2 separate regions of the Homo sapiens genome follow, and region 1 is linked to region 2. Evidence: fine-mapped expression QTL. A gene starts in region 2. The other region holds a variant in brackets. All regions are shown on one strand. Distances are from middle to middle. Region 1 overlaps BRAF (B-Raf proto-oncogene, serine/threonine kinase). Region 2 holds the start of NDUFB2 (NADH:ubiquinone oxidoreductase subunit B2).

What was found. PIP is the estimated chance that this variant, and not a neighbour inherited with it, causes the effect.
Region 1: its variant is the best candidate, but not a certain one, in a credible set for the expression of NDUFB2 in esophagus mucosa (GTEx, PIP 0.70).

Annotation. Positions count from the first base shown.
Region 1 is chr7:140,800,485-140,812,004 of GRCh38, forward strand. BRAF (B-Raf proto-oncogene, serine/threonine kinase) reads right to left here. Exons shown (of 18, transcript NM_004333.6): 4 at 8,408-8,511; 5 at 7,476-7,578; 6 at 928-1,076. Among named protein-coding and RNA genes, the nearest start is that of NDUFB2-AS1, 110 kb to the left of the region's middle. The variant GGT/G (reference allele first, on the strand shown) is at 3,929.
Region 2 is chr7:140,687,940-140,705,368 of GRCh38, forward strand. NDUFB2 (NADH:ubiquinone oxidoreductase subunit B2) reads left to right here and starts at 8,769. Exons shown (of 4, transcript NM_004546.3): 1 at 8,769-8,903; 2 at 14,927-15,071; 3 at 16,921-17,024. The coding sequence starts at 8,806. The coding sequence ends at 16,995. ADCK2 (aarF domain containing kinase 2) reads left to right here. Exons shown (of 8, transcript NM_052853.4): 6 at 1,658-1,786; 7 at 2,821-2,874; 8 at 6,724-7,171. The coding sequence ends at 6,864. NDUFB2-AS1 (NDUFB2 antisense RNA 1) reads right to left here and starts at 9,138. Exons shown (of 2, transcript NR_024454.1): 1 at 8,976-9,138; 2 at 7,397-8,881. RefSeq lists enhancers at 1,724-2,224, 8,778-9,087.

The DNA of each region.
Region 1 (11,520 bases), 110 kb after region 2:
TGAGGCAAAACAAAACAAACCTAACTTGTGCAAAACCCAGAAGCTTCATATACCAAAATACATAGTTAACCAAAAAAACTGAGATCAAATTCCATTCTCAGAAACAACTGTTAAAATTCAATTAGTTGTATTTTTGTCTAAAGGCTTATTTTAAAAAAAATTGTATTGCACTTTCAAAGGCATGCTTATAACTTAAAACTAATCATTCAGTTCAGCAAATTTCTACATACTACAAGATGAAAATCATGCTTTATGGTTAAAGAATGAGAATAAAAAGTATCTACTGTAAATTAGGTGACATTATAATTTACTTAAAGTACAGAGTTAAGTTTTATTTGCTCAGGTGATCAAGAAAAGTAAGACTTTAACAGCAGCAGCACCAATGACACAAAAAGAGATAATAGACTCAGTCTAATCTATTAGAAAAACTGGCATACAGCAAAGAGAAATTTTAGAAAGAGATATATACTGGATACAAAAATTTTACATCTTACTCAAATAAATTGGGGGAAGGGAGCTGAATGGGGATGAAGGAGAGAGAGGAAGAATATAAACGTAATTTACAAAATAGCTAACAGAATCAGACTACCTGATCTGTGGTACAAAATCATAATGCTTAATTTAATTGAAACAACTCTCCCTCTCCTCCTAGAAACTATCCAAAAATGGTTTCTATGGGTTAGGGGTCTTGATTAATTAAACGATAATATAAAATATAAATTAACTGTATAGCTGAACCAGCATTACAATTTGGGAGAGAAATACTGTCCATTCCACATATTATTCTCTAACTACACTTAAAAAAAATTCTCTATAACAATCGTATGGAAGAAAAACCCTCACAGACTTTTAGACATCGTAGCTTCACATTAAGAAAATTTAAGTGTAAAATGGTAGGTAGAAAAGAGATATTTTTGGATTACTTACTCAAGTTGGTCATAATTAACACACATCAGTGGAACTTCTGTACTACAACGCTGGTGAAATTTATAACCACATGTTTGACAGCGGAAACCCTGGAAAAGCAGCTTTCGACAAAAGTCACAAAATGCTAAGGTGAAAAACGTTTTTCGTACCTGCAAAGTAAAAAATCACAGAGATTTCAAAAACTCACAAGAAAACTTTCTAGAAACTGACGTATCTACTCTCTTGTTTAAAATAACAAAGTTGTAATATATTTATATCATGAAACTCACATACTAAAGTACTATTATAAAATGAAAACCGGGGGTTCAAGATAATAGATGGACTACACATATTTATTTCCCACCCCACTATCTAACTTAAAAACCCAGAAGTTAAAAAATGAGAAATGAGTAAAAGGCTGGCAACTGATTTCAAGCTTGACAACATAAAAGTAAAAGTAGACATGAAAAGGAGGAGGAAACAGAGGTGAAAGGAAGAAGCCTATACTTTAATTATCATACAAAGAAGGGAGGTTAAGAAATGCCGACTGGTGTTGACGGAACAAGAAAGGCATATATTAAAGTTACAAAGGCACCCAATAGAAGAACCAAAAAACTACTAATAAAAATATTGGGGGAGAGGAGGGAGAGGAAGAACTATAAATGAGCTAATTCCTTATACAATCAGTAATCAGTATATGATATCTAAAGTTAATAAAGCAAGAAATTGTGGCTAAAAGATAATTGCAGTCATGTGTCACATAATGACACTTCAGTTAATCATGGACTTCATACCACAGTGGTCCCATAAGATTATAAAGGAGTTGAATAATTCCTATTGCCTAGTGATACCTTGAAGATCCTGACCTTGTGTAGACCTAGGCTAATGTGTATGTTTGTGTCTTTTTTTTTTTTTTTTTTTTTTTGAGACAGAGTCTGGCTCTGTCGCCCAGGCTGGAGTGCTGTGGCACGATCTCGGCTCACTGCAACCTCCACCTCCTGGTTCAAGTGATTCTCCTGCTTCAGCCTCCCGAGCAGCTGGGACCACAGGCACATGCCACTAGGCCTGGCTAATTTTCCTATTTTTTATTAGAGGAAGGGTTTCACCATGTTGACCAGGCTGGTCTTGAACTCCTGACCTCAGGTGATGCGTCTGCCTAGGCCTCCTCAAGTGCTGGGATTACAAACATGAGCCACCGTGTGCAGCTTGTGTCTTCATTTTTAACAGAAAAGTTTAAAAAGTAAAAAAGAAAAATTAAAAATTTTTAAAATAGAAGTTTATAGAATAAGCACATAAAATATTTTTGTATAGCTATATAATGTTTTTAAACTTTTGAAACTGTTATTTCAAGAGTCAAAAAGTTAAAAAAAATTAAACCTTAGTTTAATGTAAATTTTTTACTTTATAAACTTTTTAAAAAGAAAAATTTTAAAACTGTACTGTAGCCTAAGTGTACAATGTTTATCATAAAAGTCTACAGTAACAAATAGTAATGTCCTACGCCTTCACATTCACTCACCACTCACTCACCAGAGCAATTTCCAGTCCTAAAAGCTCTGTTCATATTAGGTATCCTACACAGGTAGACCATTTTTGATCTTTTATACTGTATTTTTACTGTACCTTTTCTACGTTTAGATACACAAACTTGCCACTGTGTTAAGGTTACCTACAGCATTCAGTTCAGTAACATTCCGTGCAGGTTATTAGCTTAGAAGCAATAGGCTCTACCATATAGCCTAGTTGTATAGTTAGGCTATACCATGTAGGCTTGTGTAAGCACATAACAAAATCACCATTGATGCATTTCTCAGAACATATCCCAGTCATCAGGCAATGTGTAACTGTATTTAGTAAGATGAAAATAATCACCAAAAGAGCTTAAAACAGAAACCATTAAAAATTAACAGTGAATTCCTCCAGAGTGGAATTGGGGGTGGGAGGGAGAGAGACTATAAATACAATCTACATAATAGCTAAAACAAAAACAAAAACAAAATAGCTGACAGAATCAGAACCCCTGATCTATGGTCCAAAAACATAATGGTTAACTTTGGATAAAAATGTAAAAACAATTATTTATAAAACTAGTAAGTAATCATATGAAAATTGAAACAGCTCTTCCTAATCTTACTAAAAAAAATAAGAAACAGAAAAATCACCTAAAAGACAATAAGATCTATTTTTTCTAACAAATGATCAATTTCTTAGAGGATTAGAATGTTTGGGCCACATAAACTTATTTGTGAACACTTCTCTAGGTGAAACTTAGAAGGCAACATGTTAAGAATTCCATGTCAAAGGCAAATGATGTAGAACATGAGTCACGTAACAGAACTGCACTAGGAAGAATCTATCCCACTAAAGCCAGAAATTGCTTAAAATATATTTATTTAGTGTATATAATAATAAGAAAATATAAGAATAAATATCAAAATGTGAGTGGCTACTTCAGAGTGGCGAGAGCATGGGTGACTTCTATTTCATTATTTGTTCTTTGCTCTGTATTCTTGAGATGGAGTCTCGCTCTGTCGCCCAGGTTGGAGTACAGTGGCAGGATCTCGGCCCACTGCAACCTCTGCCTCCTGGTTTCAAGTGATTCTCCTGCCTCAGCCTCCCAAGTAGCTGGGGACTACAGGCATGCACCACCATGCCTAGCTAACGTTTGTATTTTTTGGTGGAGATGGAGTTTCACCATGTTGGCCAGGCTGGTCTCAAACTCCTGACCTCAAGTGATCCGCCTGCCTCGTCTTCCCAGAGTGTTACAGACATGAGCCACCACACTCGGCCTCTATATTCTTAATTCATTTCAGTTTTTCAGAGATTTTTTTTTTGAGACAGAGTCTCACTGTCACCCAGGCCGGAGTGCAGTGGCACGATCTCGGCTCACTACAACCTCCACCTCCTGGATTCAAGCGATTTTCCTGCCTCAGCCTCCCGAGCAGCTAGGACTATAGGCGCACACCATCACACCTGGCTAATTTTTGTATTTTTAGTAGAGACAGGTTTTTTTTTTGGGGGG[GGT/G]GGTTAATACTTTTAATTACATGATTGTAATTATACAATTTCCACTCTTCAATATTTTGTATAAAACCAGTTACAACTCACAAGATTTTCAAATGAGACAGGATTTTACCAGGCTGGCCAGGCTGGTCTTGAACTCCTGACCTCGTGAGCTGCCCACCTTAGCCTCCCAAAGTGCTGGGATTACAGGCGTGAGCCACTGTGCCCAGTTTTTCAGAGTTTTAATCACAAATAATGATATTTTACATTATGACTCCATATATAACTGTATTCATACAACACTACTTACCCTGACTATATACAACATGAATTAGAACTTCCTAATCTATTCTGCTACATGTAAATTTTTTTATGATACATTAAATAGATTTCAACATCAAAAGTCTACTTTTCTTTTTCTTTTCTTTTTTTTTTGATAGGGTCTTGCTCTGTTGCCCAGGCTGGAGTATGGTGGCACAATCATGACTCACTGCAAAGTCTGCCTCCCAGGCTCAAGTTATCCTCCCACCTCAGGCTGAATAGCCAAGGCTATTGGTGCACACCACCATGCCCACCTACTTTTTGTATTTTTTTGGAGAGATGAGGTTTTGTCATGTTACCCAGGCTGGTCTTGAACTCTTGGGCTCAAGTGATCTGCCTGCCTCGGCCTCTCAAGGGATTAGAGGCATGAGCCACTGTGCCCAGCCAAAAGTCCATTTTCAATACACATTTATTTACACATTCTGTTCCATTAAGAATAGAAAGTTATTGAAAATATTTCAAGAAAATTACATCCTGATATATAATACATTCTGGCTTTTTGAGGACATTTAGTTTTAAAAGTGACTCTTATTTTCTTCACCTTTTTTCCTATGTATCACTTTCTAGGGGATATAAAACAGGTAAATGTCTATTTCTAATTGTGTTCTTTTTCCATTTGTCTCTGGATATACAAGAAATTTTAAAATCTTTAAAATTTTTTATGTGGCCATTATTCACCAAACCAAGTAGGTAGGTGACCAAAACAGCTGAAGGAAAGAAAACATGTGGATATGCATTTGATCATAAATTTTAAGCAATATATGCCTGTATCTGTAAGTATACCTTTGTCAATAAAGATGAGCACAGGAAGATATATCTTTCTTTTGGGTCACAGCTTACACTTAATCTAGTATCTGAGTATACATAAATATGTATGGCAAATTAGTGAGAGGCACAGTCAAGGTAATTTGCATGCATTAATTTGTAAGGTGTGGGGCTGTGTGAAGGAAGACACTGAGTGTCTGCAGAAAAAGGAGAAGGTTTGGATATAAAAGTTTCAAATCTTGTTTTCCCACTTCCCAGTTCCCAAGGACTCTTGGGATATAGAGAAATACTGAAGGGATTGCTTTTATAATATGAAACCATGAGGCATAAGCAGCCCTCCTTGAATAGCCAAGCAAAACCCAAGACAGCCAAGAACACTTTTCCTTTCTAAGCAGAACATAGGTTTTTGATCTTGCCTCTATATGGCACTCAGAGCAATCATTCTAACACACAAATCTAATCACATTTCTCCCCAAGCTTACAACTATTACATTTCTAATTATTTTACAGAAAAATCCAAATCTTTAATATGGCTAACAAGGATTTTCATGAGCTGGACTCTGCTTATTCTACCCACAACTCTTATTCTACCCACAATACTGTTAACAACCTACTCTTCAACCTTGTATCATCCATTCTGAACTTCTTTCAAAACTTTGAAAGGTAACATGCTTTCTTGCTCTTCCCTCTGTTTAGGGTACTCTTTACTTGATACTTACTTCCTCATCCATCAGGCCTAAGCTTAGATATTTCTGTCTCTGAGAAACCTTCCTAACTCCTCAAAAGCCAGGTTAGGAATCTCTGTGCATCTATAGAACTTTATACATATATAGTAATTATGAATGTTTATGAAAATTTATTAAATCTTCTCTCTACTCTATGGCAGTGACACTGTCTTATTCATTTGTCATATCCCTAGGTAAGATATGGTATTGGCAAATGGAAAGTTCTCAATAAAAATTTACTGGCAGGTATCCAACTGAGTGGTGACAATTTCCATACTCTGGAATCAATCTGCAGTTTGCTTTCACAATCCTTCTGTGGCAAGGACCTTCCTGAGGCATCATTTTAATACTATTTTCTCACACTTAGCAACTTAGGTCTTTCTTTTATCTCCTCATATTCAATTTCTAGCTAAGAAGAATTATTAAGAAACAGAGTAGTAATCACTATGAAATGTATGCTCAACTGTATTTGTATTCTTAAGAACTTAAATAAAAATGTTAAGATTTATCCACTTAAAATTCAACATGTTAAAAAATTATTTGCTGCACAGTAAAATTTGATTGACATTAGGTGTATCTTACACTTCTCCCAAAAAATGCCTTACAGAAACACAAACATGATTTCATTATTCACTACTAATGGAGGCTTGAAAGCATAAACCCCAAAGGAAATAATCTAATCAATCATCTGCTTTAAGAGCCCAGCTGGATTAATCACCAAGACACATGGGAAAACACTTGACGCCTAAAGGGTAGCAGTAATTATCCACCTAGAAAAAACTCTGGCCAAAATTCCATACATAGAGAAAAGTAAGAAATGTATTCCTGATTCAGAGACAACTTTTGGCTTCTGCCTGCCATTTTAGGGGATAAGTTCTCAAGTTCTATGTAGATCCTCATCTCTAAGGTGGAAAGGTCCCACATTCCGGGCCTTATGCTGGTGACCCTTAGGCTTATGCTAGGTTCTAGCAAATGCAAAAACCAGACAAAGAAAAAAGCCTCATGGAGAGTTTAATATCCAGCCATTCTATTTCCATTAACCTATCCTTCAGAAACACAAGGGTGTGTACAAGTGTGTCAAGATATATGCAGAAAGACCTTGTTTAGCCCTGTATGTAACAGATTTTTTATAATACAAAAACTTAAATGTCTATCAATAGAGAAATGGTTAAATATAATGAATTCCTATTCTTACGAATTATTACATAGTCATACTAAAATAAAGCCAGGTATACTGACATGAAAAGATGTCCGTGACATCCTGTTGAATTAAAAAAAAATAAGGCAAAGAATATCACATAGCATGGCTCTACTTTGATTTAAGAAAGGGAAAAGAAAAGAAAGTAATGAAGGAAAGAGAGAAAAAAAGAAAGGAAAAAACTTTAGGCTTACAGGTACAAGCACACGTTTGTGTACACAGAAAAAAGTTTGGAAGACAGAACAATAATCTGTTAATCTAAACAAATGTTGGCCTCTAGGAGGGTATTTTCACTTTTTTTACTTGACATACTTCTGCACTATTCAAAATTATCTTTTAACAATGCATACATTTTACTTTTTTAAATTAAAAAGAAAGTATAAAGATTAAAATTAAACTCTTGTTTAAATACAAGTTTTTAAAGAAAACAACTGATTTCAACTCAGGTAAAATGTCAGTTCCAAAATTACTCATCCATATTTCACATTCCCTAAATAAAAATTCATTCATTAAAATCTAAACATTTTTGACATTTCAAAAAAAAATGTAAAGATACATACAAAGTTGTGTGTTGTAAGTGGAACATTCTCCAACACTTCCACATGCAATTCTTCTCCAGTAAGCCAGGAAATATCAGTGTCCCAACCAATTGGTTTCTTCTCTCTGAAAAATGTAGACACAAGCCTTTCTTGGTTATTACACCTAAAAATATTCATATACCTCATGCTGAAGATATGAAAATTGGTTATCGAGGGGCTAGTAACAGTGAGGGAGGTTTGGCTCCCTAATATTCCATCGTTAGAAATTTAAATGGCAATAAATTAATTTTAAGTTTACCCCAAATAAATGTATCACTCTTGGACAAACAGCAGGGTAAAGAGATGTACTCTTTTCTTCAAGTCAGCTCCAGAAAAGACCTACAACAGCAGAAAATGGATTGTTCCTGGGGTCCAAAAAAAAAAAAAAAAAAAAAAAAAATCACAGGTACGGACTTATCTATCCATTCAAGGAAAAAGAGTACTCAAGGGACAGGGACAACATGCCCCCAAAATAATTTTTTTTTTTTTAAAGAGGATTCAAAATGTGAGGGTCTTGGAACAATGTTAGACACTTTCTGAAAGAAAAGTAGGTCAATATAAAATGTTAATTTTGATATACCTTTTGTGAAACTATGAGTTTGTATTAAAAATGGGAGGGGGGTAAGAGTCTATTATCCAAATAAATCACACTCTGAATGGTTCAAAAATTGTAAGAATCTCAAATTCCAAATAAAATCATTTGATCAAAGTAACAAACCCTACAGTCATATACAATTATTTAACTCCTCATATGGCCTACAGTATTTCTTCAGGCTAACTTAGTATTATTTTAATACTTTTTCCTAAAGTACACTTTCAATTCCCTAGGTTTTGGTAAAGATCCTAAGAAAACTTCAAAGTTTAATGTGTGATTTTCTTTTTAAACAAAATTTCACGTCACATACAAACCATACCCATCCTGAATTCTGTAAACAGCACAGCACTCTGGGATTAGACCTCTCATCATCAGTGCTTTCTTTAGACTGTCTCGGACTGTAACTCCACACCTTGCAGGTACCTATGGTATCATAAATATATTGATAAGAGGTAAAGGGAGCAAATTACATTTTTTCATATCATTAAAAAAATTTAGTAATTCATCTTTAAAAAGTCAAATGGGTTACTAGGTCAGATACAACACCATTTCTACAGCTAACTTAATACTAAAGGGAAATTATAACCCAAATATTTGTTATTATTCACCAACTTAAATCAAAGCAAAGTTAATTTTCTATTTTATTAAAATTATGAAATACTTTAAACATATAAAAAGAAGAAGTAACAGTATCTGCTACAATATACCCACCAACGCAGTATATCCATCACTGAGCAATAATAGATGTCAATATTAAAAGCAAAATCAATTTTGATCCAATACTGTTCAAAGCTGAAAACTGTATAACCCTTCAATCACACTGACTGTCCTTAAGAGACCTCTTACTGGCCCTAAACATAGCGGGAAGAAAAAAACCTGTCTTAACATGTATACTTGATATTTGTTGTTTGGTGCCCCTGTTTCCTCTGGGAATATTCCCTTCTCTAGAAATCCACATGGTACTAGAAAAGCTATCAAGGGTCACTACTTTTATGTCACTACAGATGACAGAAGCTGGCTAATCAGTTTCCCATACCCCCGGCAAGAGCAACTGGTCCAGGGCTATATATATGACCCAAACAGTACCTGAGTTCTTCCCTAAATTGACACATGGACACTGACAGAGAAAAGTCCTTGTTTCTACTGTAGTTCTGTAGATTTGCAGAAGATACAAATCTGGAGCCCTCAATGGCCATATTCTCCACCACACTGAGAAAATCTGTTATAGAATGAAGCTAACATACGAAGCAGCAAAGATGACATGGGAAGAGAGAGACAGAGAAGGAGGGAAAGGGAAAGGGAAAAAAAAAGTAATCTCTCTGTATATTTAAAGTTATCTATCTTTAGCCTTTTCCTTGCCTCATCCCCCACAGGCAAATCTGAGTTACTTGGAACTGAAGGTGTAGACTACAGTGAGGCAGTGTGAATACAGAGGACACAGTTTTTATTGGGAGGTGTAAGAAGAAGGGGAAATGTTAGTTTGTAACAATAAGTTCCATTCATTTAAATTGAGGTGCTTAGCAAACCAAAAGTTTCCAAAGAAATTGGGAATATTTATGCTAGAGGGGAAAAAAAGGGGGTAAAGGTAAATATAAGACAGCTGAATTCAAATAATATATTGAAGGGGGAAAGAGTCCAGAAAGCCTAATTAGGATCTATGACCAGAAATAACAGGACGCAGAGGGTAGTGCAATATAACCATTAAAACTATCCAGGTTGGGTGCAGTGGCTAACACCTGTAATCCCAACACTTTGGGAGGCCAAGGTGGGTGGATCATTTGAGGTCAGGAGTTCGAGACCAGCTTAGCCAACATGGTGAAACCCCATCTCTACTAAAAAACACAAAAAGTAGCCGGGCAGAGCGGCGGGCGCCTATAATCCCAGCTACTCAGGTGGCTGAGGCACGATAATCACTTGAACCCAGAAGGCAGAGGTTGCGGCAAGCCAAAATCGTACCACTGCATTCCAGCCTGGGTGACAGAGCGAGATACTGTCACAAACAAACAAAGAAAAACCCTGAACTTTTACCTACCCAGCAAGGTAAAAGTTTGTCATGAGAGACTGGGCTCATCACTGGAAGTATTAAAGAGACTGGATGGTACAGTTGATCCTCATTACTTGTGGAGTCCATACTTGAAATCTCTCTACTTGCTAAAATTTATTTGTAACTCTAAAGTCAATACTCTTAGTGCTTTCATAGACATGCGCAGAGCAATGAGATATTTGAGTCGCCTAATGCATGCACCTCTCCAACTGAGGTTGAACAGTGAAGCTTTCTCTTGCCTTCTTGTTTCAATTTTCATACTATAAACAAGTATCCTGGGCAGAGCCTATTTGGTGCCACTTTTTTCTCACTTTTGTGCTTCTTGTTGATGATTCTTCTGTTTAAAATAATCCCTAAGCATAGTGCTCACGTGCTGTTTAGGGCTGGTAAGCATAAGAAGGCTATAATGTCCCTGGCAGAGTAAGTACATGTGTTAGGCCAGCTTCCTTCAGGCATGAGTTATAGTAATGTCAGCCGTGAGTTCAATGTTAATGAATCAACAATATGTCTTTAAACAGAAACACACACAAAACAAGGTTACGTATCGACTGACTGATGAAAATGTGACTAGAGGCTGGTAGGAACCTAACTGTATTTTAAATGTGAAGGATCTGGGGTCTGATCAAGGAAAAAGATATGACCACGAGGTGGCAGTAGCATGCATAGCTTTATTGGGTGACATTGACAGATCTGCAGGCAGAGGATGTCCTTAAAGCATACTGTCCAGAGGCTAAGGCAGAGTGGCCACTACCCAAACAGGACTGGCCAGAAGCTGAGGTGGAGTGGCTATCACCCAGAAGAGGAGGGCTAGGGGACTCTCAGGGGAGAGGGGAGTAGGAGAGGGAGCTTATATGTCTAGCTGACAATGTTAGACAACCCAGCAGGGAGTCTATGTATCAAAGAGCTCCAAAGGGCAACAGCAGCTTGGAATCTTTATAGCCTTGGGATTTGATCTTATTTATACCTAATAGATGTTGAGTACAAAGCAGTTTTGTGGGGACTGCAAAGTAGGCAGGCTCTCAGTGGCTAAAAATCTGCTTATCAGGATTATATTTAAAACAATTAGATGTACAAAAAATTTAGTTTGGTGCAAGCACACTTTTAAGCCAATAGGTCTCAACCTGTTGTAATGGAAGAAACAACCTAGAGGCCAATATACAGAGGGGTTTTTTGGCTCATTTAAATAATAATAATCCTTGTACTTCCCCTAGGAGCAAGGTTCAGTGTTCACTAATTGTTTGTAGTGAATTTATAGACCATAACTACTACGAACAATGAGAACTGGTTGTAACCTTTCAGAAATAATAAACTTAAGTGAAAGCTCACTTTTCCCTGTGCCATTCGTCTTCCGCCTATACTAATGCCAAAATTTCCTGACTGGTGACCGA
Region 2 (17,429 bases):
CTGCCTTGGCCTCAAGCCATCCTCCCATCTCAGCCTCCTGAGTAGCTAGGACTACAGGCTGGGCAGGGGGTGAATCTTTTATACTCTGGGGAATGCCTCTGTCTCTGTCTTTTTTTTTTTTTTGAGACAGAGTCTCGCTCTGTCACCCAGGCTGGAGTGCCTTGGCGTGATCTCAGCTCACTGCAACATTCACCTCCTGGATTCAAGCAATTCTCCTGCCACGCCTCCTGAGTAGCAGGGATTACAGGCACATGCCACCATGCCCGGCCACTTTTTGTATTTTTAGTAGAGATGGGGTTTCACCATGTTGGCCAGGCTGATCTTGAACTTCTGACCTCAGGTGATCCACCTGCCTCAGCCTCCCAAGGTGCTGGGATTACAGGTGTGAGCCACTGCACCCAGCCAGAATGTCTCTGTCTTGAAACAGGACAGGTCTCCTTAGCCCGGTCATTCTTGTCAATGCTCACACTTGCCAGTGTGCCAGAAACGAGTGGAGGGAGGCAGGAGGACAGGAGGCGAGGCTGCCCTTAAGGGGCTTTCTGTTAGCAGGTGCTGGGTGCAAATCAGGCCAGTTCTGAGTGGCAGATGGTTTGGGACTGTGGGAAGAAACAAGTGCTGTTTCGTGTTAGTAGTTTCTGGTCCTTCTCCAGCAAACATCCAGCTGGTCAGCAGGAATGCTGGCTTCTTGACCAGATAATGGCTGCCCCTGGTGTGTGCTACCTGCTGCAAGGTGGCAGGCTGGTGAGATGCGACAGCATAGAGAACACAGCCTCTAAGTGGGGCACAGCATGCTGGCACGTCCGATGTGGGGACATGAGTAGTTTTTGCAGCCTCCCCTGTGATTCTGAGGGTCTGCAGTGGTTGAGAATGATTATTTAGAGAAAAGGCATTCGGCAAGGCCTCTGCAGAGTCAATTGAAAGCACTACGTCGTGGGTGACTCTGAGGAGGCCCTCTGGCCGGCTGGCAAAGAATTCTCCAGCAAGAAAAACACTGGGAAAAAGAGAACTGTTTTTTTTAAAAATTAATTAATTAATTTTTTTTTTTTGAGATGGAATCTCACTCTGTTCCCTGGGCTGGAGTGCAGTGGTACGATCTCAGCTCACTGCAACCTCTACCTCCCGGGTTCAAGTGATTCTCCTGCCTCAGCCTCCCAGGTAGCTGGGATTACAGGTACCCACCACCATGCCCGGCTAATTTTTGTATTTTTAGTAGAGATGGGGTTTCATCATGTTGGTCAGGCTGGTCTTGAACTCCTGATCTCAGGTGATCCACCTGCCTCGGCCTCCTAAAATGCTGGGATTACATGTGTGAGCCACTGCATCTGGCTCTTTTTAAAAAAAAATTTTTTTTTTTTAAACAGCAAAATGCAGGGCAGTCCCTGCCTCTGAGAGGGCAAACCCAAAGCTGGGGCCTGCAGCTGGTTTGAAAGTGTCCCCTGGGCCAAGGTTAAGCACTGAGGCGCAGTGCAGCGGGGGTGGGGGCATTCCTCCCTATAGGTATGGGCAAAGGGAAAAGGTCACAGCCCGAGGAGGAAGAGCCAAAAGCAAGATGCCAGAAAAGTCAGGGTGGAGCTGCTGAGATGAGAAAGACGCTTGGGCACCGCATCCAGGTTTATGCTAGCTCCACTCCAAGTCCCTTTTCCGTTGCATTTTCCAGGGCCAGAGAGTGGCTGAGCTGATCCTGCATCATGCCCGGGCCAGCGAGTGCAGGGACGTGGAGGGGTTCAAAACCGAGATGGCCATGCTGGTGACCCAGGCCAGGAAGAACACCATCACCCTGGAGAAGGTGGGCAGGTCACTTGCGGAACAGGGGCTGGGGAGTCCATACCTGGCCTGGGGCAGAGCAGATCCTGGGTCTAAGGGAGACCTCTTTATGAGGGGTGTGAGTTTTAAAGCAGAAAAAGAACCACCCCACATCTTCCAGGCATGAGGAGCCCCAGTGAAGTCCGTTGTGCTCAAGGGGGCCTCCTTGTGCGGTGCCACTTAGGAGGCTGCAGCTCCTTCCTCATCCAGGGGTCGCTGTTCATTTGGGGACAGCCAAGCATACAGGGAGGGAGGACTGTGGTCTCCAAGCAGCCAAATGATGTGCCCAATGCGCATGTCCCTTATTTAAACCCAAGCCAGAGCCTGCTTTGTATTTTATACACAGTTCTAGCAAATGTGACTGTTTTATCCCCAAGTTCATGGCCACATTAGCAGGAATGGGTCAGACAAGGAGTGGCCACTGGCACGCTGGCCCTGCTGATAGTCTATCCAGGTGTGATTTTTTAAAAATTTTTTTGAGATGGAGTCTTGCTGTATCACCCAGGTTGGAGTGTAGTGATGCTGTCTCGGCTCACTGCAACTTCCACCTCCCGGATTCAAGCGATTCTCCTGCCTCAGCCTCCCGAGTAGCTGGGATTACAGGCACCCGCCACCACACCCGGCTAATTTTTATATTTCTAGTAGAAATGGGGTTTCACCATGTTGGCCAGGCTGGTCTCGAACTCCTGACCTCAAGTGATCCGCCCGCCTTGGCCTCCCAAAGTGCTAGGATTATAGGCAGGTGTGATTTTTGTGGTTGCTTCAGGGATGGGGTGGGTGGGGCTCAAAGGCTTGTCTTCCAAAGGCCTCTGTGACCGAGTCTTGAGGTGGAGTTGGGCTTGTGCTGGAGGAGTCCTTTCAGAGTTTGTCAGATGGTCCCTTTTGTGCTGACTGGTGTATGTGTGCCCTGGCGGGGGAGTGGGGTGGGATGCTGGGGCTGAGAGTGTGGGGGTGGTGGGAAATGAGCGGTTCTGGAAGGCTCGGTGGTCTGCATTAGCCTTTATTTTGTTTTTCCAGCTTCATGTGTCCAGCCTTCTCTCTAGTGTCTTTAAGTTGCTGATGACTCACAAGGTGAGGGCCATTCAGAGGGGAGGTCTCTGGGGAAGGTGGGACGGGGCAGGGAGGAATGGGAGGACACAGGGTGGTGGGAGGCGCTTCTATTATATGGTTCTTGTTTTTTGTTGTTGTTTTTCTTTTTTTTGAGACAGAGTCTCACTCTGTCGCCCAGGGTGGAGTGCAGTGGCGCGATCTCGGCTGACTGCAGCCTCTGCTTCCTGGCTTCCAGTGATTCTCTTGCCTCAGTCTCCTGAGTAGCTGGGATTACAGGCTCCCACCACCACGCCTGGCTAATTTTTGTATTTTTAGTAGAGACGGGATTTCACCATGTTGGCCAGGCTGATCTCGAACTCCTGACCTCAGGTGATCCACCCTTCTCGGCCTCCCAAAGTGCTGGGATTACAGGCGTGAGCCACTGTGCCCGGCCTATTATATATTTTGAAAGCATTTTTAGTAACAAGCCATTTGCAACAAGTGCTTCGTAGCTGTTAGTCTATCTGTCAAGTCAGTGCAGTCTAAGTATCTGTGACATTTAAATGTAGAAAAGTGTATTTAAAAATGTAGAAACAGCCTACCTCTGGCTTTTCATGTCTTTCCCTCCTTGGTTCACTTTCATGATGCTTGTGTTAATGTAAGTCATGCTTAGCTCTTTCCTGGTGGAATGAAGTCCTGGGGTCCAGAGGCCGCTCTAGAGGGTCATGCCTTGTGTCCTGGTGCTTTCAGAGGCCCTAGCGGGACTGCTGTGGCCCCTGCCTGGCTGCTGTAGTCCATTAGAGGGAGCTGGCCTCATGGTTCATCTTAGCCTGTGCCCCGGCTCTGTCGCCTTGTCATGGAGCCTAGTCTCCGGCACTCTTTAAACTAAGGCTGCTGGCCAGGGACAAGCAGTGTTGAAGGTGGAGAAGGGAGGACCTCGTTGGAAGATGGCCTTTTCCATTGCATTACTTAACTATATGACATCTATTAGTAACCAATTTATCCCCTCAGTCTTCCAAGAGGCAGGCACCAAAGCCGAGAGGCCGAGCAGCTCACCTGTGGCCATGTGGGCAAGCCCCCGCCTGCTGCTGGGTCCTCCCGCCTCCGTGGCTCACTCTGAGCATCTGCTCCCCACACAGTTTCCAGCACGGTGGGTGAGGGGCCTTGAGTGTTTGCTGCTGCTGCTGCTGTTCCCAGGATGGAAGAGGAGACAGAGGGCCTAGGGCAGCTACTGCACTCCAAGCACTTCACTAGGCACTTAAGTTTGAAAACATTTACAAATTTTTCATTGTGATGAAAAACACATAAAATTTAACCCCCCAACCCTCTCCAGATGCATAGTGTTAGCATTGTGCAACAGATCTCTAGGTCTTTCTCATTTGGCAGAGCTGAAACTCTACAGCCATTGACCAGCTCCCCATTCCCCTCTCCATCCGGCCCTGGGAACCACCATGCTGTTTTACGTTTCCATGATTTTGGCTACTCTTGATATTTCATATAAGTGGAATTATAAAGTATACTGTCCTTTTGTGATTGGCTTGTTTTACTCAATATAATGTCCCCAGGTTTCATCCATGTTGTAACATGTGACAGGATTTCCTTTTGAGACAGGGTCTCACTGTGTCACCGAGGCTGGAGTGCAGTGGTGCAAGCTTGGCTCATTGCAACCTCTGCTTCCTGGGTTCAAGCAATTCTCGTGCCTCAGCCTCCCAAGTAACTGGGATTACAGGCAAGTGCCACCATGCCCAGCTAATTTTTGTATTTTTAGTAAGAGATAGGGTTTCGTCATGTTGGCCAGGCTGGTCTCGAACTCCTGACCTCAAGTGATCCACCTGCCTTGGCCTCCCGAAGTGCTGCGATGACAGGCGTGAGCCACCGCGCTTGGCCTGTTATTCTGTTGATGCTGTTGATGTTCACGTGGGTTGCTTCCACTTCTTGGTTATAGTGAATAATGCTGCAGTGAACATGAATGTGTAAATATCTTTTCAAGATCCTACTTTCAAATTTTAGAAAAGTTTTAAAAACATTTAATGTAGCCAGTAAGGTCTATACATTGTGTTCTTGCTTTCCAGTTTTTAAACATATGCCCCAAAGTAGGTTTTCTGGATCATATGGTATGTTTTTAGTTTTTGAGGAACTTCCATAGGAGCTGTACCATTTTATATGCCCACCAACAGTACACAAGGGGTCGTTTCTCTCATCCTCACCAACACTTGTCATTTTCTGTTTTGTTTTTAGTGGCCATCCTAATGGGTGTGAGGTGATGTCTCATTGTGGTTTTGATTGCATTTCTCTACTGATTCATGATGTTGAACATCTTTTCATATGCCAATTGGCCATTTGTATAATATATCTTCCTTAGAAGAAATATCTATTCAGGTAGCACTTAATTTTTTTAAATAAAGTATTTGACAGTAACACAGAGATAAAGGAATCTAATCCACACTAAGAACCCCCCACCCAGCTTCAGAATGAAAGCATTCCCAGAGGTGTTAGAGCCCTGGGTTCCCACCCGGACCAGAGCCTGTGTGGCCAATCTGCCAGGCTGGAACTCCACAAGCTGCTCCTGGGAGCATGCTGCTGCTTCTGGATCCACCTGACCCCGACAACCTTCCAGCCCTTAACGGAGACAAATACTCTTTAATTTCTAACAAAGAATATTTCCCATGATTCAACCTTCCATTTCTTGACCTTCTGTCCACTTAAAAAGCAGATTCCTGTTCTTCTAGGTTTACATCTGGCTCTATTCCTCCTCACTCAGTGGCCTTGAGCAAGTCATTGAACCTCTCTGAGCCACAGCTTCTTTCTCTATAGAATGGGGATAACGATGATACTTTTGAAGAATAGTTGAAGAATCCATGTCAATTGCTATTACTACTAATCTGGCTCTGAAGGGACAGCTGTACCCTGTTTGAGCAGTCAATTGTGTGTTGTCTCTGATTTTTTTTATTTTTTTGAGATGGAGTTTCACTCTGTTGCCCAGGCTGGAGTGCAGTGGAGCCATCCTGGCTCACTGCAAGCTCTGCCTCCCGAGTTCAGGCCATTCTCCTGCCTCAGCCTCCCGAGTAGCTGAGACCACAGGCGCCTGCCACCATGCCCGGCTGATTTTTTGTATTTTTAGTAGAGGCAGGGTTTCACTGTGTCAGCCAGGATGGTCTCGATCTCCTGACCTCATGATCCGCCCGCCTCGGTCTCCCAAAGGGCTGGGATTACAGGAGTGAGCCACCACGCCCGGCCTGTGTGTTGTCTCTTAAAAAGGCTATTGTAGACCAGCTGACATGGCTCCTGCCTATAATCCCAGCACTTGGGGCAGCCAAGGTGGGAGGATTGCTTGGGGCCAGGAGTTCGAGATCAGCCTCGTCAACATTGCAAGACCCTCTGTTTACAAAAAAGAGTCCCAGTCTCAGGAGGCTGAGGCAGAAGGATCCCTGAAGTCCAGGAGCTCAAGGCTGCAGTGAGCTATGATCTTGCCATTGCACTCCAGCCTAGGTGACAGAGTGAGACCCTGTCTCTAAAATAAATAAATAAATACATACATACATAAAGGTTACTGTAGGTTTCGAAGAATTACCTGTATTTAAATGTATAGTTTCTGGGATGTGTGTGAAAGATTTATTTGGTCATTCATTCATACACACATGGACACAAACCTAGAAAAGTATATTCCGCACCCCTAGATTTTTCCTTAGTGTGTCCAGTAGATGGGAGGCTGGGCGAGTAGGTGAGATGGTTGGGGAGATGACGCGGTAGAGAAGAGAATGTCAGGTAGATGGTAAACATCCCGTGGGCAGGTCTGAGGGAGGCTGAGAGTGGACAGCAAGGTGATTATCCAGAACACACGTCCCTGTATCAGCATGTTCTGAGATGAACTGTTCTGTTTTTCTGTTCCAGGTAAAGCTTGAGAGCAACTTTGCCTCCATTGTGTTTGCCATCATGGTGTTGGAGGGGCTTGGCCGCTCACTGGACCCCAAACTGGACATCCTGGAGGCAGCGAGGCCCTTCCTCCTCACGGGCCCAGTGTGCCCCCCGTGATGGGGCAGTGGCCTCTGTGGGCCCTTGTCAAGAGCTGGAGGCCACTCCCAAGAGCCTCTCCTATGGCAGCTGGGACGTTTTAAAATTGGGACACCAATTTCAAATGTAACCCTCCAGTGGTGGAAGGCACACCATGGCTTCCTCTGCTTGGTTTGAGGGTCTGTTCAAAAGCTTTGGGCCAATTAGGGAGTAAAAGGAGGGAAGGGGCCTATCCATTCCATTGTGGAAGCTGGGCCAGGTGCCAGGGACACTCTCCTTCAGGGAAAATGTTATGTGGAGGAGGACGAATAAATTTATTTTGTTTTCCTGTTTTTCTCATTTCTTGACCCGCTATACTCCCTGGTCAGATGGGTACTGCTGGTAGTTCCCAGACTTTGATATTCAGGTTAGAAAATGCCATCAAGTCCTACTGATCTGTGGCATGTGCACACACACACACACACACACACACTCTTTATGTATAAATATCATGCAGGTGCTACCTGCCAGCATAATATACACTTAGGGCAAATTTCATTGTACTTCAAATTATCTTCTTGGTAATTTTTAATAGATTTTGCTAACTCCTTGGTAACTTTTATTACAAGGTAAAACAAAACTGATGAAAGTGGCTGACATACCGGGGACGTGAGCAGAACGGCTTGGCCACTTCCTTAACATGGCCCCGGGTTCACCCGCTAGTCCGGAACTACAGTTTCTCTGCCACAGTGTCTGCGCCTGTCCACTTGCAGGCATTAATTTTGGTGAATATGAAGAGAGTTAATATAACCAGTGTGTCCTCTTCTCCATGGCAGCGCCCAGGGACAGACCTGCAGTGACCACCACCTGCCCCTCTCTGCCAGGCCCAACCACGGGCTTTCTTCTCAGAGCTGAGCTGATGTGGCCGTCTGGCTGACTAGGAGGGGCCCGGGGTCAGCCTGGAGGGGGGGTATTTGTAAAGCTTAATTTCTCTTTTTTTTTTTTTTTAGGTAAAATCACAGTTTATCCCTGCACCTTCATAGATTATGTTGCTCGTCTTAGAGACCACCAGGCAGCGAATGGAGTCAAGCCCTTGCGCTCTCCGAGAGTCCTGCCCTGACTACAGGACTAGTTTCTCCCATTCTTTCCTTCTCCAGGATAAAGTTCCTCATTCCTGTCTTTTAGTGAGCAGTATGGTTTAGGTGGACAGAGATTCCTTTGGTGCAGTTTTTTTCAAGGAGGTGATGTTATTTTTTCCTTCCCAGGTCTTGAGGGGACATTCAAAGCAGGCAGAGAGGGGTTGGGATGGCTCCAGATGGCTGGGAGGGAGAACACCAGCTGGTCACGCAGCCCCTCGTGCCAGTGCGCATCAGGTACAGTGTGGAGGCGGGAAAGGGACAAAAAGACGGCAGTCTCTTCCCTGAGCCTATGCCAACCCAGCCTTAAAGCCAGTGGATCGAATCAAGCCATTTGTGGCATTATCTATTGCTGCGTACGAACTTAGCCTGGCACAATGCCTGTAATCCCAGCTACTCGGGAAGTTGAGGCAGGAGAATCGCTTGAGCCTGGGAGGCAGAGGTTGCAGTGAGCCGAGATGGTGTCACTGCACTCCAGCCTGGGTGACAGAGCAAGGCCTTGTCTCAAAAAGAAAAAAAAAAAAAAAAAAGAATTATACACCACTCAGTTTTAGGAGGGGCAGAACACGGGGAGAGCCCTACAGGATCAGAGGGGCAACCAACAAGCTGTTTCAGAAGGCATGGGGCAGCTCAGCAACCATAAGTTATGCGTGGGCTTTGCTCTCGGGAGAGAGGTTTCCTGCAGCCGAAGGACTCACAGCTAATCTGGGTCAGGAGCGGCTGCCGGCTCCCCCACTCCTGGAGATGAGCGACTCTGTGACGTCACGGGAGGCGCGGGCGGAGCGCCGGGGAAGCGAAGTAGGCAGGGGCGAGGCGGCTGGGGACCGCGGGGCGGACGGGAGCGAGTATGTCCGCTCTGACTCGGCTGGCGTCTTTCGCTCGCGTTGGAGGCCGCCTTTTCAGAAGCGGCTGCGCACGGACTGCTGGAGATGGTGGAGTCCGTCAGTGAGTGTGGGGCTGGGGATGGGGGCCTCGCCGGCCTGTAGCGGACAGCGCGGGTCCCTGGGACGCTCTCACCTTGACTGGGGCGCCTGAAGAGGCCGCGTCCCGAGGCATGCTGGGACCTGTAGTCCGCGTGTCTCCTGAAGCCGCGACTCGAGGAGAGGGACCCCGCTGGCCGGAGGGAGAGGGAGAGACTTCGCTGGGCAGATGGGACACCGTGTGCAGGGCCGTCATGGTAGTAGGGGCCGCCTGCCCTCGGGAGACGCACGCGTGAATGCGGAGCGGGCTGAGCCAGTCGGCGCCGGCGCGGGCGGTCCAGGCGGAGGAAGCAGCGTGCGCGGCGGGTGTGGACGCTCCTGGAGCGAGGCGGGGGGCGGCGGCGGTGAGGCCTAGGGAGGGCGCGGTCCAGGGTCCCGGTGCCTGGCTGCGGAATTTAGGGTAGAGTCTGTTCGGCAGCCTTTAATCGGAGACGTCACGTGGCCGCTTTTTAATGCTGAAAAATCACTCTGGCTGCAGGGAGTGGAGGCTGTCGCCCAGAGAGAGCGCCGTCGGGTGAGAGGAGCAGAAAGCCGGAAGCCAACGCTGGGGCAGCCGTGGCGTTTAGGAGAGTGACAGGCAGAGCCGCCCGCGAGGTGGCCCGAGACGCAGACCGGAGGGCGGAGGGCTGGGGGTGCGAGGTAGGGAGCGGGTGCGAGGTAGGGAGCAGCTGCCGAAGCCGAGTTAGTGGTGTGCAGAGATTCCGTAAGAGCAGGACTGGAAAAGAGTCATGGATGATTCCAGGTCCCTTAGATCATCAGCTACACTTTACCAAGAGGCAGTGTGGGGTCGTGATTCCAAGCGGGATTCTGGCCGCACAGTGGCTGGGTTCAAATCCCACCTCTGCCACACTCCAGCTGTGGGACCTTGGAAAAGTTTCTTATTCTCTTAATGCCTCAGTTTCCTCACCCATTTGGCGTCCATTTGCAAGGAACTAAATGAGTTACTGTTATCTAAAGCGTGTTTGTGTGTTTTAGGAGATGGGGTCTAACTCTGTCAGGCAGGCTGGAGTGCAGTGGCGCGATCCTAGCTCACTGCAGCCTCTAACTCCTGGGCTCAAGTGATTCTCCAGCCTCGGCCTCCCAAAGTGTTGGGAATACAGGCGAGCCACTGCGCTTGGTCTCACTAAAGTGTTTAAAACAATTGCTGGTGCCTGCTAAGGACCGTACAAGTATTCTTTAACTGTTGTTGTTATTAAGGAACTGAGGCCCAGGAAATGAAAGGAGTGACTTGCCTGAAGTCCCACATGGATGAAGAATCTGGAGCTGGGGCAGGTGTGGGGTGGGCAGAAGGCAAAGCCCTGTGTGACTTGGGCAAAGACAGTGATGGAGAGCCATGAGCGACAGCCCTTGGTCCTGCATGAGGAGATGGGGGAATGCCGATCTTCCCTGAGGTGCTGGCTTGTTCGTAACACACACTTGTTTCAGAGTGTGTGATAATTAAGTGCATAAATGTTTATGGAGCATCTTCTATATGGCTGCTCCTTTCTAGGTGCTGAGGATATAGCAGAATACGAGAGAGAATGAAGTGTACATTCTGGAGAGGAGAGACCAGTAGAAAAGAAAGACCTTTTTTGAGTACTGTTAAGGGTTATGAAGAGAATACAGCTGGGGATTAATATGGAGAATGCGTGGTGTGGGAGTAGAAGGGATATTGTATTTGGGGATGGCGTGGGAATGCCTGGGAGTGTGATTTGAAGCGGGACCTGAGGGATGAGAAGTCAGCCATGCAGAGACCTCAAGGGAAGAGCCCGGTGGACATAAGAGGGCAGAGGAGGCATCAGGTGGAGAGGCCAGAGCCCGCAGGGTTGGCAGGAGGCCAGGCTGGAGTGGAGCGTAGGGGAAGAGTGGGAGAGACCAGGTCACAGGGACAAGTGTGGGGGCCGGATTAGAGGGGGCTTTGGAGGACTCGGAATTTTATTCTAAGAATCACAGGGAGCCATTGGAGTTTTAAAGCAGGAAAGTAATGTGGTCTGATTTATTTTTTAAAAATGTAACTTTGTCCAGGCGCGGTGGCTCACACCTGTAATCCCAGCACTTTGAGAGGCTGAGGCGGGCGGATCACCTGAGGTCAGGAGTTCGAGACCAGCCTGGCCAACACGGTGAAACCCCATCTCTACTAAAAACACAAAAATTAGCTGGGCATGGTAGTGTGCGCCTGTAATCCCAGCTACTGGGGAGGCTGAGGCAGGAGAATTGCTTGAGCCCAGGAGGCAGAGGTTGCAGTGAGCCGAGATCGTGCCACTGCATTCCAGCCTGGGTGACAGAGTGAGACCCCGTCTCAAAAAAATAAAAATAAAAATGTAACTAATAGAGTTATGGTGCATTTTTGTTTTTAAACTTGACTCTCAAACATTTGAAGTTGGAACAGCCATTATTTCCTTGGATGTTGTTTCTTCCCCATTCTCTTTCCTTCTTACAGGACTTGCTGATAGTGTCTTACTTCCTTATGTTTTTTGATCTTGAGCTTGTTTTCCCTGGAATTTCTTTGAGATCGTGCTTCTCTTAGTCTCTTGAGGGTGCCACCCCAATTCAGGCTCACATTAAATTCTCGGCTTGGGGTTTTTGGTCCACACAGGTCCAACGCAGGTAATGTGAATTTGGGTGCAAATCTACCTGAGGACTGGCTTCTGATAACAAATTCTTGTTCCCTTGTCCATGGAAGGTTTATTTCTTGTTCACCCTTTTACCATATGGGGTTGCAGCTTTATTCAGTGACCTCGTCATTAGCCTTCCCACCTTGGGTGGGCCCCAGGCTGCGTCTCTTTCCCCACACCTCATGTAGCTATCCTGGTGGAGGTTCAAGGGCTCCCGGTGAAGGCAGCTTCAGTGATTGATTGCTTAGCTTCCAGGCCTTGTTTTTACTTGAATTTTGCTCTTGGTGGATTCCTTCCTTTTGTGCCTGGTCAGTGATGTTTGTAAAAATCTTAAAAATCTCATCTAGCAGCAGAGTTGTTAATTTGGAGGGTTGTTCAGGGTATCTAGTTTGCCACAATGCAGTTCACAACCTGGTTTGGAACATAACATTGTGAATTAGGTGTTGAGTCTTTGCATTCCTTAATCATGGCAATCCTTGTCATTGTTCCTGTGATATAATTGCAGACTTTCAAATCTTTGTTCCAAAAGGTTTCCATTTTGCAGTCCCTACTTCAGGTTATGATTAAAACAACATGTCACTCTAGCAATAACGAAGCGTGGGGAGCTGCTAAGATGGGTTTGAACTATAATGCTGGCATCGGCATTACTCAGATCTTTTTTGTTTTTTTGATACAGAATTTCGCTCTTGTTGCCCAGGCTGGAGTGCAATGGCACGATCTCAGCTCACCACATCCTCTGTCTCCCAGGTTCAAGTGATTCTCCTGCTTCAGCCTCCTGAGTAGCTGGGATTACATGCATGTACCACCATGCCCAGCTAATTTTGTATTTTTAGTAGAGACGAGGTTTTTCCACGTTGGTCAGGGTGGTCTCGAACTCCCGACCTCAGGTGATCCGCCTGCCTCGGCCTCCCAAAATGCTGGGATTACAGGCATAAGCCACCGTGTCCGGCCTTCAAATCTTGTTTTAATCAGTTTTACTGCTGGGCACTTATACCTAGATTGTATCAAAAAGCTATCAAAGAAGAAGGCTCTTGGCCGGGCACAGTGTGGCTCACGCCTATAATCCCAGCACTTTGGGAGGTCAGGGCAGGCGGATCACCTGAGGTCAGGAGTTCGAGACCAGCCTGGCCAACATAACGAATCCCTGTATCTACTAAAAATACAAAAATTAGCCGGGCATGGTGGCACATGCCTGTAATCCCAGCTACTCGGGAGGCTGAGGCAGGAGAATTGCTCGAACTGGGAGGCAGAGGTTGCAGTGAGCCAAGATTGTGTCACTGCACTCCAGCCTGGGTGACAGAGTGCGACTCCGTCTCAAAAAAAAAAAAAAGCTCTTGTTATACTATATTGAATGATCCTGCATGGTTTATTTACATAATGTAATATCTATATGCACAGCTAGATCCTGAATGAATAATATAATTGGTATATGAGGACATTACGGAAACAGTATGCTACGTCATTCAAGTTGTAAAGTGGCGATATTTGGTAGGACCTTTTAAACATGATACTTAAAAAAGTACATATATACACACATCTGCAAAAACTAAAAATCACCTTATTCATAATTAGTTATTAATACCTTAAATAGAGCATTCCAAATAAAAGTGTTAAATTTTGGATGACTATTTAGAAAAAAAAATGGAATTTATCATTTCAATATGGTAACATTGGTTTTATCATGCTGGTTGGAATTCTAGTTAAAAGTTATGTCTTTGATTAATAAAAGGAGAAAATTGTTAATGGTGTGTGTCTGTAGGCAACAGCTTAGGCTTTGCCATCACACAGCATCTCACTGGTAAATCATTAATAATTACAGGCCTTATCATAACATTATGAAAATTAAATGAATTAAAACTTATAAAATGCTTAGTGTGGTATCTGGCACATGGTAAACACTCAATAACTACCAGTCATCTTTTAGAGTGGGGGAGGATAAAAACAGTCTGCCAGCCTGGCAACATAGGGAAACCCTGTCTCTACAAAAAAAATATAAAAATTAGCCAGGTCTGGGGGTGTACACTTGTATGTAATCCCAGCTACTTGGGAGGGAGGCTGAGGCAGGAGGATTGCTTGAGCCCAGGAGGTGCTCAGTCAGCAGAAGGATCGCTTGAGCTAAGGTCACGCCACTGCACTCTAGCCTGGGCGACAGAGCCTATCTTTAAAAAAACAAACAAAACAGCCGGGCACGTGGCTCACGCCTGTAATCCCAGCACTTTGGGAGGCCAAGGTGGGTGGATCACCTAAGGTCAGGAGTTCGAGACCAGTCTGGCCAACACGGGGAAACCCCGTCTCTACTAAAAAAAAAACAAAAATTAGCTGGGCATGGTGGCGTACACCTGTAGTCCCAGCTACTTGGGAGGCTGAGGCAGGAGGATCGCTTGAACCCAGGAGGCGGAGGTTGCAGTGAGCCAAGATTGTTCCATTGCACTCCAGCCTGGGTGACAGAGTGAGACTCTCGCAAACAAACAAACAAAGAAAACAAACAGTCCTAGCTAACATGTATCAAGAACCACTGCCCTGTTACTGTTCACGAATCTGTGCATTATGAAGACAAGATATTTTAATGCACTTTTCCTACAGGTACGAATTTCTGTGCTACATAAAAGAGAATATGGTTTACAAGCTGATTCTTATCTAGATGAAATTGGTAAACATATTTTATATAGGAATTCTCTTAAAAATTTTTTATCCACTTCTGTTTATTAGCATATATATGGCTGATGAATAGGTTTTAGGAATAGCCCCAGTAGGTGCAAATAATTTAAATTAGATGCAACGTATAATATTTATACTCCAACTGAATAAATTGACTATAACTCTTATGGACTCTGTGCCACAACTTGTCAAGTGTCTGAATGAAAAGAAGAAAAAAGAAACACGTATTCAAACTTACTGTTTAAAGTTCTTTGTTCAGAGCCATTAGCATATTTAATAGGATTTGCGAGTCCTCTCTCCCATATGGTTGTCTTTTAATAAAGATTGTAATAGGCAGAGGACATAATTTGCCTCAAATAGATAGCTAAACAAAGCAAAATTAATTTATTTTTCTGAGTAAGTTAGTGACCTGCTAACAAGTTCACAGTCCCTTAACTAAAACCTTTGGGGCTAGCACCCCAGAATCAACACATTCAAATTTCTAGTGCAAAATAATGAATCTTCACTAATTGAAAACCAAAATTAGCCTCTTGTCAGTTTTGGTCAGTTTTTGCTGCTACACATGAAGCAAGCTTAGTAAAAAGTGAGTATTTCAAGGGATTGTGAACTTCTGTCTATATTTCAGTGGAGATGAGAAACATTAGCGTTGGTTCTAGGATGTAACTCAGAGGAGTTTTGGATGACTTAACGCTTTGAGAATGTAGCACGCTGTCTGCCATGTTGTTTTGTCTTGCAGTGCCGGTGGTGGTGTGCACATTGAGCCCCGGTATAGACAGTTCCCCCAGCTGACCAGATCCCAGGTGTTCCAGAGCGAGTTCTTCAGCGGACTCATGTGGTTCTGGATTCTCTGGCGCTTTTGGCATGACTCAGAAGAGGTGCTGGTAAGTGCAGGAGAAGAGCACTTGTCGTTTTTTGGGTGGGGGAGGGAGGATGTATTAATAGCTTGTTTATTTTTCTGTTGTAGACCATTTTTCTGTCTGGACATCGCCCTTTGCCACCACTTTTTCCATATGTATATACAAGAATCCTGTTATTTAATGAAACATGTTATCTTCTCACCTTTTTTTACACGAGGATGTATATTTAGGTGGTCCGTTTCTTATGGTTTCTGTTAGGTTGCCATCTTAGGGAGACTAAAAGCTCATTTTTTTTTTTTTTTTTTTTGAGACACAGTTTCACTCTGTCACCAGGCAGGAGTGCAGTGGCACAATCTCGGCTCGCTGCAACCTCTGCATCCCGGGTTCAAGTGACTCTGGTGCCTCAGTCCCTTGAGTAGCTGGGACTACAGGTGTGCACCCCCACGCCGGCTAATTTTTTTTGTTGTTAGTAGAGACGGGGTTTCACCATGTTGGTCAGGCTGCTCTCAAACTCCTGACCTCAAGTGATCCACCTGACTCAGCCTCCCAGAGTGCTGGGATCACAGGCGTGAGCCACCGCGCCTGGCCAGAAATGAATTCTTTTACCTTCTGAACTAGCGGTTCATTGGTAGGTTAGGTTTCACACTTAAATTCCTTTAAATGATGAATGTCTTCTGGTCTGTCCAGAGGCCCAGGGCAGCCAGGTTTGGGTGGGATGGATGTGAGTTAATTTGTCTTGAGAAGGGAAGTTAGTTTTAGTGATTTTCTATTTTATTTATTTATTTTTGAGATGGAGTCTCACTCTGTCACCCAGGCTGGAGTGCAGTGGTGCGATCTTGGCTCACTGCAAGCTCCGCCTCCTGGGTTCACGCCATTCTCTTGCCTCAGCCTCCCAAGTAGCTGGGACTGCAGGTGCCCGCCACCACTCCCGGCTAATTTTTTATATTTTTAGTAGAGACGGGGTTTCACCGTGTTAGCCAGGATGGTCTCGATCTCCTGACCTCATGATCCACCTGCCTTGGCCTCCCAAAGTGCTGGGATTACAGGCGTGAGCCACTGCGCCCGGCCAGTTTTAGTGATTTTCTAACATATCATTAGCCTCAACTGAGGTTTTACCACATTTGCAGACCGTTCTTTGGGAAATTACGTCTTTAAGACATTGAAATCTGTGCTTGTTTATCCAGGATACTTTGAGTTGTAGTAAATTTGGGTTTGTTTCCAGGATAGGAAAAAAATCTTAAGCAGTATGTAAGTTTTAGAAGCATCAGGTTGCTTCATATCCCATTTCTCTTAGAACTTCTCTGTGCCGTTGTCCTTCAGTAAGGAGCTGCCTGGGTGTCTGTGAACTGTCCACACATTTACTATTTGAGGTGCCCCTGCCTCACTGTAGGTCAGCTGTCCGGAGTATGTACAGTATGTATAGCTGTTAGGCCTGAGATGATGATGATGCAGCCAGATAAGCCCTTAGATCAGGATTGGAGATGAGGAAGTCCACCTGAGGCTTCTCCATTTCACAGCAGTAATGTTAGGAGAGTTGGAAACATATTTTGCCAGGACTTTGCCAGGATGTCAGGAACCTTTGAAACCTATTGCCTCCACTTCCCCCTACCCTCCCTCTATCACAGACACGTACCATTGGCTTAGGCTGGTACCTCCAAATGGGGAGGCTTTTAAAATTCAGACCAGAGCCCATATAATGAACAAACTAAAGAACAGGTGGGCCATCGAATAATTAAAGTAGAATTTGTTCCTGTGGTCAGGGGCTGAGCCATATTGTTTTTTTTTTTTTCTTTCCAAGATTTATTTAACAATTTAATTAGTTGCACAGAATGTAAATTCTTGACTTTTCTTTCTTTTAAATGGTTGTCACCAGGGTCACTTTCCGTATCCTGATCCTTCCCAGTGGACAGATGAAGAATTAGGTATCCCTCCTGATGATGAAGACTGAAGGTGTAGACTCAGCCTCACTCTGTACAAGTGGGTGTGCTCCAAATTTCTTTATGTCATATTTACCTTTTTTCATAAACATTAGTTTTTACTTTGTGCCTATGATGGACTTGAAAAAACTGCATATTCTAACAGCATGAAGTTGAGTTAACCATGTCCTGTATCTGCTTTTTTTTTTTTTTTTGAGACAGAGTCTTGCTCTGTCGCCCAGACTGGAGTGCAGTGGCGTGATCTGGGCTCACTGCAACCTCTGCCTTCCAGGTTCAAGTGATTCTCCTTCCTCAGCCTCCTGAGTAGCTGGGATTATAGGCACATGCTACCACACTTGGCTAATTTTTGTATTTTTAGTAGAGGCAGAGTTTTGCCACGTTGGCCAGGCTGGTCTCGAACTTCTGACCTCAAGTGATCTGCCCACCTCAGACTCCCAAAGTGCTA